Linked DNA regions of Homo sapiens: region 2 is linked to region 1. The links come from fine-mapping of genetic effects on gene expression. A gene starts in region 1. The other region holds a variant in brackets. All regions are shown on one strand. Distances are from middle to middle.

Region 1 (4,385 bases):
TAATCAAGCCCCACCCTCCTATCCCATGTTGAAAGATCCACCTTAAAACAGATTTTGAAAAGCTACTAAGACTCTATAGTGTCCTTCCTTACCGCAATGAGCCATAAACTCTGCTTTGTCTTATCAACAGGTTGTTTTGGTGGGGAAATTGCTGGGAAACCAGCATTTATTTGACACATACCTATGCAAGGTTCTGCTGCATCCTCCCCAGGGGAGGCCACTTCCTGCTGTACAGCAGACTCCACTTCTGTCACCACTGCTACAGCTGCCTCTTTGTCCAGCCCAGGCTGGGTGAGACTTGGGCCCTCAGAGGAAGGCTGGGGCCACAGCAGCAGTTCAGAGCCTGGCAGCACCAGCTGGTACACTTGCAGATGAAGCCTCTCGCTGATCCGCACTGGGGCCACATTTCCCTCACTCTCCAGCCTGCCCCGTTGTACCAAGCTGCAAAGCAAAGTAACAGCCAGCTAGGAGATGCTCACTATTCAAGTGGTCTTCCCCGAAAGCCCCAGTCCCCAAGCAGTCTGGGTCCTAAAGGACGCCGTGCCTTTGGAACATTCACTGCAAAAGAGCACTGAATAGGAAATGACAGTCAGCACCGGGTTCCATCCCAAACCACAACAGAAAACCTCAAAGGAACGACACACTCTCCTCTGACTTACCTAGTCCAGCCAGAACTCTGCTCACAGGCACACACGTCTCCCCATGGGCCTAATGACAGGTTCTGAAATAAACCAACAAAAGTCCTTCTCAAATGTGTTCGAGGGGTCGGGTAGGAATAAAAAAAGAAACTAGATGAAACTTTCCTGGGACAAATTTAAGATGAAACTCCTGGAAGGTTAGAAGCCTCTGGTTCTCCTCTAACAGGACAGTGCTGTCTGATTCTTCATTCAGTAAGGACCAAAAAGTCTGTCTCCTCACCTCCCTCCCAAGGGTATGGAGAATTACTAAATTGAACACATTACTGTCTTCCAGTGAGTACTAAACAGAAAAAGTAATAAGGAACACCAGCTTTTTAAAATGGTATTTATTGGGCCAGGCGCGGGGGCTCACACCTGTAATCTCAGCACTTTGGGAGGCCCAGGCAGGCGGATTACTTGAGGCCAGGAGTTTGAGACCAGCCTCACCAACATGGTGAAACCCTGTCTCTACTAAAAATACAAAAATTAGCTGGGTGTGGTGGTGCACATCTGTAATCCCAGCTACTCGGGAGGCTGAGGCATGAGAATCACTTGAACCTGGGAAGTGGAGGTTGCAATAAGGCGAGATCGTGCCACTGCACTCCAGCCTGGGCGACAAAGCAAGACTGTCTAAGAAAAAAGAAAAATAAATAAAATAAAATGGTACTTATTGTGCAGTGAAACCTTTTATCTTCACTATTTCATCAGCTCCTCCATATAATCCCAAGAGAGCCACTGCTTTGTTTCACAGATGAATTAAATGCGGCACGTAATTTAACCAGCTAGGTGACAAAGCTGGAATTTGATCCCATGCTTTCTTAATTCCAAAAACCTTAGCTCTTGACCTTCCTCACTCACTGCTGACACTGTATGATTCCAGCTTTCAACAACTTTTCAAACCTCGATTCTTTAACTACTGCTGCTGAGAGGAGACAGTCCTGAAGAGAAGGGACAAGACTATCTCCTATCTCTTGAAATACTCTCTTTCTTCAAATTGAAAAGCTGTCTAGCAATGTCCAAACCTCCCCTACATTTTCAAGGGCGGAGGGAAGTCGCTCTATCCTTCAATACCTCCTCCTGCCGTGGCTTTACTCCCTCGCCCTTCTCCTTGGAGGCAGACTCCTCTTCCAGCGGCCCCCACAGCAGGCCGGGCTGCAGGGGGTCCCCGACACACCAGACCCCCAAGCGCTGTTCCTTGGCGAGTGAGGGGCCAAGGGCCAAGCCCCGGGGAAGGCTCTTTAAAGCGAGGATGTCTCGGGTCGGCTCGGGTGGGACGTCTTTGAGGCCCTGCGTACAGCCTTCTCCGGAAGGGTTCCATCCTAAGTCCAGGCCCAGGCGCGGCTCGCGGGCTGCAGAGAGAAGGGAAGACAGTGAGGGAGCCACCCAAGAAGGTGGGAGGTGGGGAAAAGTGTGGGAGGAAACCGCAGGTCCAGGTGGGCCTGCGGAGCCCGAGGGACAGGTGAGGGCTCTAAGGAGGGCCCTGAAAGTTTTGAGGAGGCTCAAGGGCTCTTCAGAAGCCCCCAGCGACTCTGAGGGCACTGGAGGATCCTGGGATCCGGAGGAGAGAAGACTGAGGAGAAAGCTGACCACAGAGCGTCAGATCCACCTGGGCCAAGGTTGAGGGTCGCGGACATCGCAGGTCACTCACCGAGTTGCAGCGCCTTCTTCCCCTCCAAGAGCAGCTCCTCCGCCTCCTCCATTCCGGGTCAGAAAGCCTCCCTACGCCGGAAGTGAGCTTCCTCTTCTCAGCTCCTCCAGGAAACAGTCACGGACTTCCAAATTTTTTTCTCAGGAAAGAAGCCTCAGAGCTGGACCTCATTGGTGCACAGGACTGGGAGTTTGGGAGTACTGGGGAGGCAGAACTCTGTCCGAGAGCAATGCGAACCTCGGATTCCGGAGGTGCACCAGTGATTCGACTAGCTGGGAAAGCGGAACTAATTGTTCCAGCCATCTCTTTGGGAGCGACGAGTCGGACAGTTATGCTGTTACCTCCCCGAGGCAGGAACTTAGGCGGGCATGTGCAGGAAGTGGGCGGGGCTCCTGGAAAGGCCATGTTTGGGGCCGGAAGTGGGTTGGAGGTGTGGCGGAAATGGTTGGGGATAGAAGAGAGCGGGAGGGGGCGGTTCCCGTTCCACCGCGGAGCCGGATGTTTGCCGAGCCTTGACAGGCGTGGCAGAGGGAGCAGTGCCCGAGCGCGGTGAGCTGCTGGGCGCGGGGTCTCCCCGGGTGGGGATGGGGAAAGGAAAGGAGCTGGCCAGGTCGTCCGAAGGGATGGGGTCCGGATGGGGAGGACCGGAGCAGATCCGAGGAGGGGAACGGGGGTGGAACTGGGCTCAGAGGCCTGGCCTTCCTGCAGGGTTTCTGCCCCATTTTGGCGCCTGCAATAAGAGGACTTAATCATTTTCACTACCTTCTTCCTGCCTTCCCCAGGGCAGAGTCCAGGCCGGATCGCTGTCATCCAGCAAGCCGGCGGGAGGGGGAAATCTCCCAGATCTGATCTGGCAAAGCACTAAGAAGAAGAAATTTGGGGGAAGTGTTCCTCCTTGCCACTTATTAGGCCACGCTTTCAGTTCAACTTATTTATTTTTTTAAGACGGAGTTTCACTCTTATTGCCCAGGCTGGAGTCTCGGTTCACTGCAACCTCCGCCTCCCGGATTCAAGCGATTCTCCTGCCTCAGCCTCCTGAGTAGCTGGGATTACAGGCGTCCGCCACCACGCCCGGCTAATTTTTGTATTTTTAGTAGAGACAGGGTTTCACCATGTTGGCCAGGCTGGTCTCGAACTCCTGACCTCGTGATCCTCCCGCCCCCGCCTCCCAAAGTGCTGGGATTATAGACGTGAGCCACTGCGCCCGGCCTCAGTTCAACTTCTTAATCTGTGAAACAGGATAATTGCAAAACGTAACCTGGGCTTTGTAAACCGTGAAGCTCTATGCAAACATAATTGTAGTTGAGAGTTGTAATTGCTGTTGTATTGTGGTGGGATTTGCAACTGGGAGGCCGATTCCAACGTTGAGAATATGATTTCTTTTCTTTTTTTTTTTTTAGACGGAGTCTCACTCTGTCGCCCAGGCTGGAGTGCAGTGGCGTGATCTCGGCTCACTGCAACCTCCGCCTCCCGGGTTCAAGCGATTCTTCTGCCTCAGCCTCCCAGGTAGCTGGGAGTACAGGCGCGCGCCACCACACCCGGCTAATTTTTGTATTTTTAGTAGAGATGGGGTTTCACCATCTTGGCCAGGTTGGTCTCCAAATCCTGACCTTGTGATCCGCCCGCCTCGGCCTCCCAAAGTGCTGGGATTACAGCCGTGAACCACCGTGCCCGGCTGGTCCTCTCTTTCCTCACTGTAAAATGAGCTTAGTAGAACATGCCTCATCAGTGCTATCGTGAGGTTGAGTTTGTGTCCCCAGTTCATGGTCCTATATAGGCCCTCAACAAGTGTGGGTTCCCTTCTTTACTTAGGAGATGAATTAATTGGTTCATTCATTCAACAAATGATAGCATCTACTATATATCAGGTGTCATTCTGAATAGACCAGAAGTTCTTAAACAGTGATTCTCAGAAGGTGTATGAACCTCTTAAAATTGCATACATCTCCTAAGTTTTCTTAGGGAAAAAGTCCACACATGTTACCAATTTCAGAAAAGTCTACAACTTCCTAAAAGTGATTGCCTAAGGTGATCCTTAAGATTTTTGTAAAGGTTTACCT
Region 2 (4,385 bases), 41 kb before region 1:
CTTTTTGGATTGCCCAAGTCAGCCCTGGGATTACTGGAGTACAATCCCCTGCATAACCCAGGATGCAGATGGATGACCCAATTTACATTCTGCCTTTCTATATCAGTTTTTTGCATTCTCAAGAAGCTTATATTGTATATTTCAGAGCACCCTTATCACCAACTCCAGGTAGATTCTTGTGGAATTTGTCGTTTTCAAGTATAGGAAATTCTTAATTGTTCTTTTTGGTGGGAGATTAACCAAGGCACTTTAGAAGGGGGATATGTGGATATCTGAATATTCTTTCTACTTTTTCCCCTCTAGGCATCTCCCCTCAGATGGAAGTCACATGTGTGCCCACGCCCACAAGCACAGTGTCCTCCATAGGTAACACAAATGGGGAAGAAGTGGGGCCATCTGTCTACTTGGAAAGGCTAAAGATCCTCCGACAGCGATGTGGTCTGGACAACACAAAGGTACTGCTCCTTTTCTTCTGTGCAGTTCAGGGAGGGTAGTCACAAGCAGGTCCGAGGCAGGCTGGCCCACAGAGAAGTGGCTTAGTCTTGCTGTAGTTCTGGAGCTGCATCTTGACCTGCTTGACCTGACCTTAGACAATCTCTCTCCTTCTCTCAATAGCAAGATGACCGACCTCCTTTGACCTCTTTGCTCTCCAAACCAGCAGTTCCTACTGTCGCCTCTTCCACAGACATGCTCCACAGCAAACTCTCTCAGCTCCGGGAGTCACGGGAGCAGCACCAGCATTCAGACCTGGATTCTAACCAGACTCACTCTTCAGGAACTGTGACCTCCTCCTCCTCCACAGCTAACATAGACGACTTGAAAAAAAGACTGGAGAGAATAAAGAGCAGTCGCAAATGAAGCTGCCCCACTCCCCCGGCACCCTGCAGCTTTAGTTTACTAAACTAGAAGTCCTCATAGTTTAAAATGGCCTCAGCAGGCCTAGTGTATACAAACTGGTTGTATGTATCATGCCGTGGAGCTAGGGGGAGGAGTCATTGTGGCACAAGTATTTGTACATACTCTGCTTCTCTCTGTCAGCGTCCTGCTGCTCTAGAAGACTGTCCGTGGATGAGTTTAGTGTACAGACTTGTAAACAGCTGCCCCCTCTCTGCTCAGTCTAGTTCCCAGATCCTTTTCTTTTCTTTTTAATTGCTCATTTGTAAAATTGTCCTAATCTTTCCTAGCTTTTTAATAGTTAATATTAGAAACTCTTTAATAGTTTTCCTTTCAGTTTGTGAGCTCTTCTCTGTCGCCCTGAAGGGTCACTGTATTCTGTATGAATGCATGGCATGATACAACTAATTTAAGAGTCTTTTATAAATAAAGTTTGCATTAACTATACCTGACTCCCAAGATGCTCCATATCATGGAGTGTTGGGCAGCAATTTTTTAACTTTTGGTACCAGCTGGGTATTCAGCCAGTTAGAGAAAGGTTAATTACTGCTTACAGAGCTTCCCTTTTTCTTGGCTCACAGACTTGGAGCTGTCTTTTATTCCTTTGGAATGGAAGGAACTCTCCTTCCCTGCTCTCCACAAACAGCTCCTAGGGAGCAGAAAAATCTCATCCTTCCTTGTTTTGAGATTTTGGTCATGATTTCCCTCCAATTATCACCAGTCGTTTCAAGAAGCTCTTGGGCATCCTACCACTTTGCTGACCAAAGGCACACAAGATTGCGCCCAGAGATTGGCTGGGCTTCAGTGGTTCTCACACTACAACTAGATTTGTGTTCATTTGACTAATGGAGTTTGGGAAATCTTAGTGGTTTGCTGCTTGGTTGTATGAGTCTCTTTTGGTCCAGGCTAACAGTTGCTTCACATTCAGTCAGAGTAAGGATGAGAAAGTGAGCTGAGTATTCACCTCTGGAATAAATTCCACAGGACCTCCCTCCACAGTCAGAAAAACTCTTCAGGATGAAAAGGTTCTGGATTCAGGAGGAGATTTTGGGCAGTTATAAAGTTCAAAGGAACTTTCCTATTGTAGCCCACCTTCAATTCAATTGATGTCCAAGAAATGAAAGATTGATGGAAGATTAATCCTGTAAAGGTTCCAGTCATCGTTTTCAGGTGGCCCCGGAGCCTCCTGAAATTAAACTTGTCTCTCCTTTATAGTGGGAACATGGGAGTGGGTATTTGTTCACTGAAGGGATGATGGAGGCGTTTGCTGCTATAGTGGAAAGACATATTTAGAAAGAATGGCTACAAAGGCTGGGCCTGGTGGCTCACTCATACAACCGTAGCATTTTGGGAGGCTAAGGTGGGTGAATCACTTGAGCCCAGGAGTTCAAGACCAACATGGGCAACATGGCTCTACCAAAAAAATACAAAAATTAGCTGGGTATAGTGGCTCAAGCCTGTAGTCCCAGCTACTTGGGAGGCTGAGGTGGGAGGATCACCTGAGCCCAGGAGGTCAAGGCTGCAGTGAGCC[G/A]TGATCACTCCACTACACTCCAGCCTGGGCAACAGAGCAAGACCTTGTCTCAAAAAAGAGGAGGGAAACAAAAGAAGAGGAAAAAAAAGAGTGGCTGTACTCCTGTCTGGAATTAGCACAGCTGACTGGAAAAACCCAAGTCCCTAGAGCTTACAACACTGACCGCTATGTCGGAAGAAAACAGACTTATGAGAATGTGTGTTCTTGTTTAAAAAGCAGGTCCTGCATGTCACAAGTAATTCTGAATCCCTTCCCCCTTGATCGAGTTGATGCCCTGGGCTGCCAAATCCTGCAAGCTCACTGCCTTTCAGTCAACCAGAACCAAAGAATGAGGCCAAGGAACTCTGTCCTGTTTGTTTTCTGATGTGTTGAAAAATGAGAAAAAAAAAAAAAAACGTTATGAGGAGGGTGCTAAAGATCCCTATCTCAGGTCCCTTCCCGTGGAAAACCACGTTAGAAGATCCTAGGCCAGGTACTGTAGCCACAGGGTTTCCCTGCTCCACTCCACTATCCTGTGCCTGAGGCAGACGTTGATCTTCATTCTTTCCCTGAGCTCATGGATGAGACTTCTCAAGACGGAGCCATGCTCCATCCCACACCTGTGACCTCTGCCAACAGTAACCGTGAAGAATGTGCTCTGAAAGGGTATCTTTGAAGTTCTATGATTCTTTTTTTTGCAAGGGACTCTTGCTGTGTCGCTCAGGCTGGATGGCATGCAGTGGCATGCCTCTCTCCTCACTACAACCTCTGCCTCCTGAGTTCAGCCAATTCTCCTGCCTCAGCCTCCCAAGCAGCTGAGAAGCTGGGATTACAGGTGCCCACCACCACACCCGGCTAGTTTTTGTATTTTTAGTAGAGACGGGATTTTACCATGTTGGCCAGGCTGGTCTCCAACTCCTGACCTCAGGTGATCCACCAGCCTCAGCCTCCCAAAGTGATGGGATTACAGGCGTGAGCCACCATGCCCAGCCCATGACTCTTATAACTTAGAGGTCCCATTTCTTGGAAAAATAAATTGTTCCAGCTGGGAACTGCTGTGTGAGGAAACATTCCAGGAAGCAACTACCCCACTGATGGGCTATTTCCAGGGCCCAAGAGAGGGACGAGGTAAGCGGCAGAGGAACTTTCAACAGGCCCAATGCCCGGTCCAGTTCCCAGGCAATAGTGAGAATACGAGTGGTAGTGATTCACAGCTTACTAGGCACTAGGCATTGTGCTAAGGCACCATGTAAGTTCTTTCATTTAATCCTCATAACCGTATGAGGTAAGTAATGTCGTTATATACACCTTTTAATATACAGGTGGCCTTCCAGATCTGTGGGTTTTGCATCTGCAGATTCAACCAACTGCAGATTGAAAATATTTGTGGGGAAAGAAAACAATAAAAATAATACAAATTTTAAAATAATACAGTATAACTATTTACATAGTATTTACGTTCTATTGGGTGTAAGTCATCTAGAGATGATTTGAAGTATATGGGAAGGCCGGGCAGGGTGGCTCATGTCTGTAATCCCAACACTTTGGGAGGCCCCGATGGGTGGATAACCTGAGGTCAGGAGTTTGAGACCAGCCTGACCAACACGGTGAAACCCCATCTCTACTAAAAATACAAAAACTAGCCAGGCGTGGTGGCGGGCACCTGTAATCCCAGCTACTCGGGAGGCTGAGGCAGGAGAATCACTTGAACCTAAGAGGCGGAGATTGCAGTGAGCCGAGATCGCACCATTGCACTCCAGCCTGGGCAATGAGCAAAATTCCAACTCAAAAAGATAAAAATAAATTTTAAAAATGAAGTATATGGGAGGATGTGCATAGGTTATATGTAAACTGTGCCATTTTATATAAGAGATTTGAGCATCTGTGGATTTTGGTATGCATGGTTGGTTCTTCTTCTTTTTGAGACAGAGTCGCTCTGTCGCCCAGGCTGGAGTGCAGTGGTGCAATCTTGTCTCACTGC

Which allele goes with the higher level. Positions count from the first base shown, and alleles are read on the strand shown. Sizes are in standard deviations (SD) of each study's normalised expression.
In carriers of allele A in region 2, the expression in sun-exposed skin of the gene that starts at base 2,394 in region 1 tends to be lower than with G alone (moderate effect, 0.54 SD a copy in GTEx).

Evidence for each region. PIP is the estimated chance that this variant, and not a neighbour inherited with it, causes the effect.
Region 2: its variant is the best candidate, but not a certain one, in a credible set for the expression of ZNF408 in sun-exposed skin (GTEx, PIP 0.61).

The regions. Positions count from the first base shown.
Region 1 is chr11:46,699,040-46,703,424 of GRCh38, reverse strand. It overlaps ZNF408 (zinc finger protein 408), which reads right to left and starts at 2,394. Exons shown (of 5, transcript NM_024741.3): 1 at 2,326-2,394; 2 at 1,749-2,026; 3 at 660-721; 4 at 182-441. The coding sequence starts at 2,377. ARHGAP1 (Rho GTPase activating protein 1) reads left to right here and starts at 2,806. Exons shown (of 13, transcript NM_004308.5): 1 at 2,806-2,874. RefSeq lists an enhancer at 2,311-2,600 and a silencer at 2,931-3,050.
Region 2 is chr11:46,740,496-46,744,880 of GRCh38, reverse strand. It overlaps CKAP5 (cytoskeleton associated protein 5), which reads left to right. Exons shown (of 44, transcript NM_001008938.4): 43 at 304-455; 44 at 616-1,833. The coding sequence ends at 858. Among named protein-coding and RNA genes, the nearest start is that of MIR5582, 11 kb to the left of the region's middle. The variant G/A (reference allele first, on the strand shown) is at 2,426.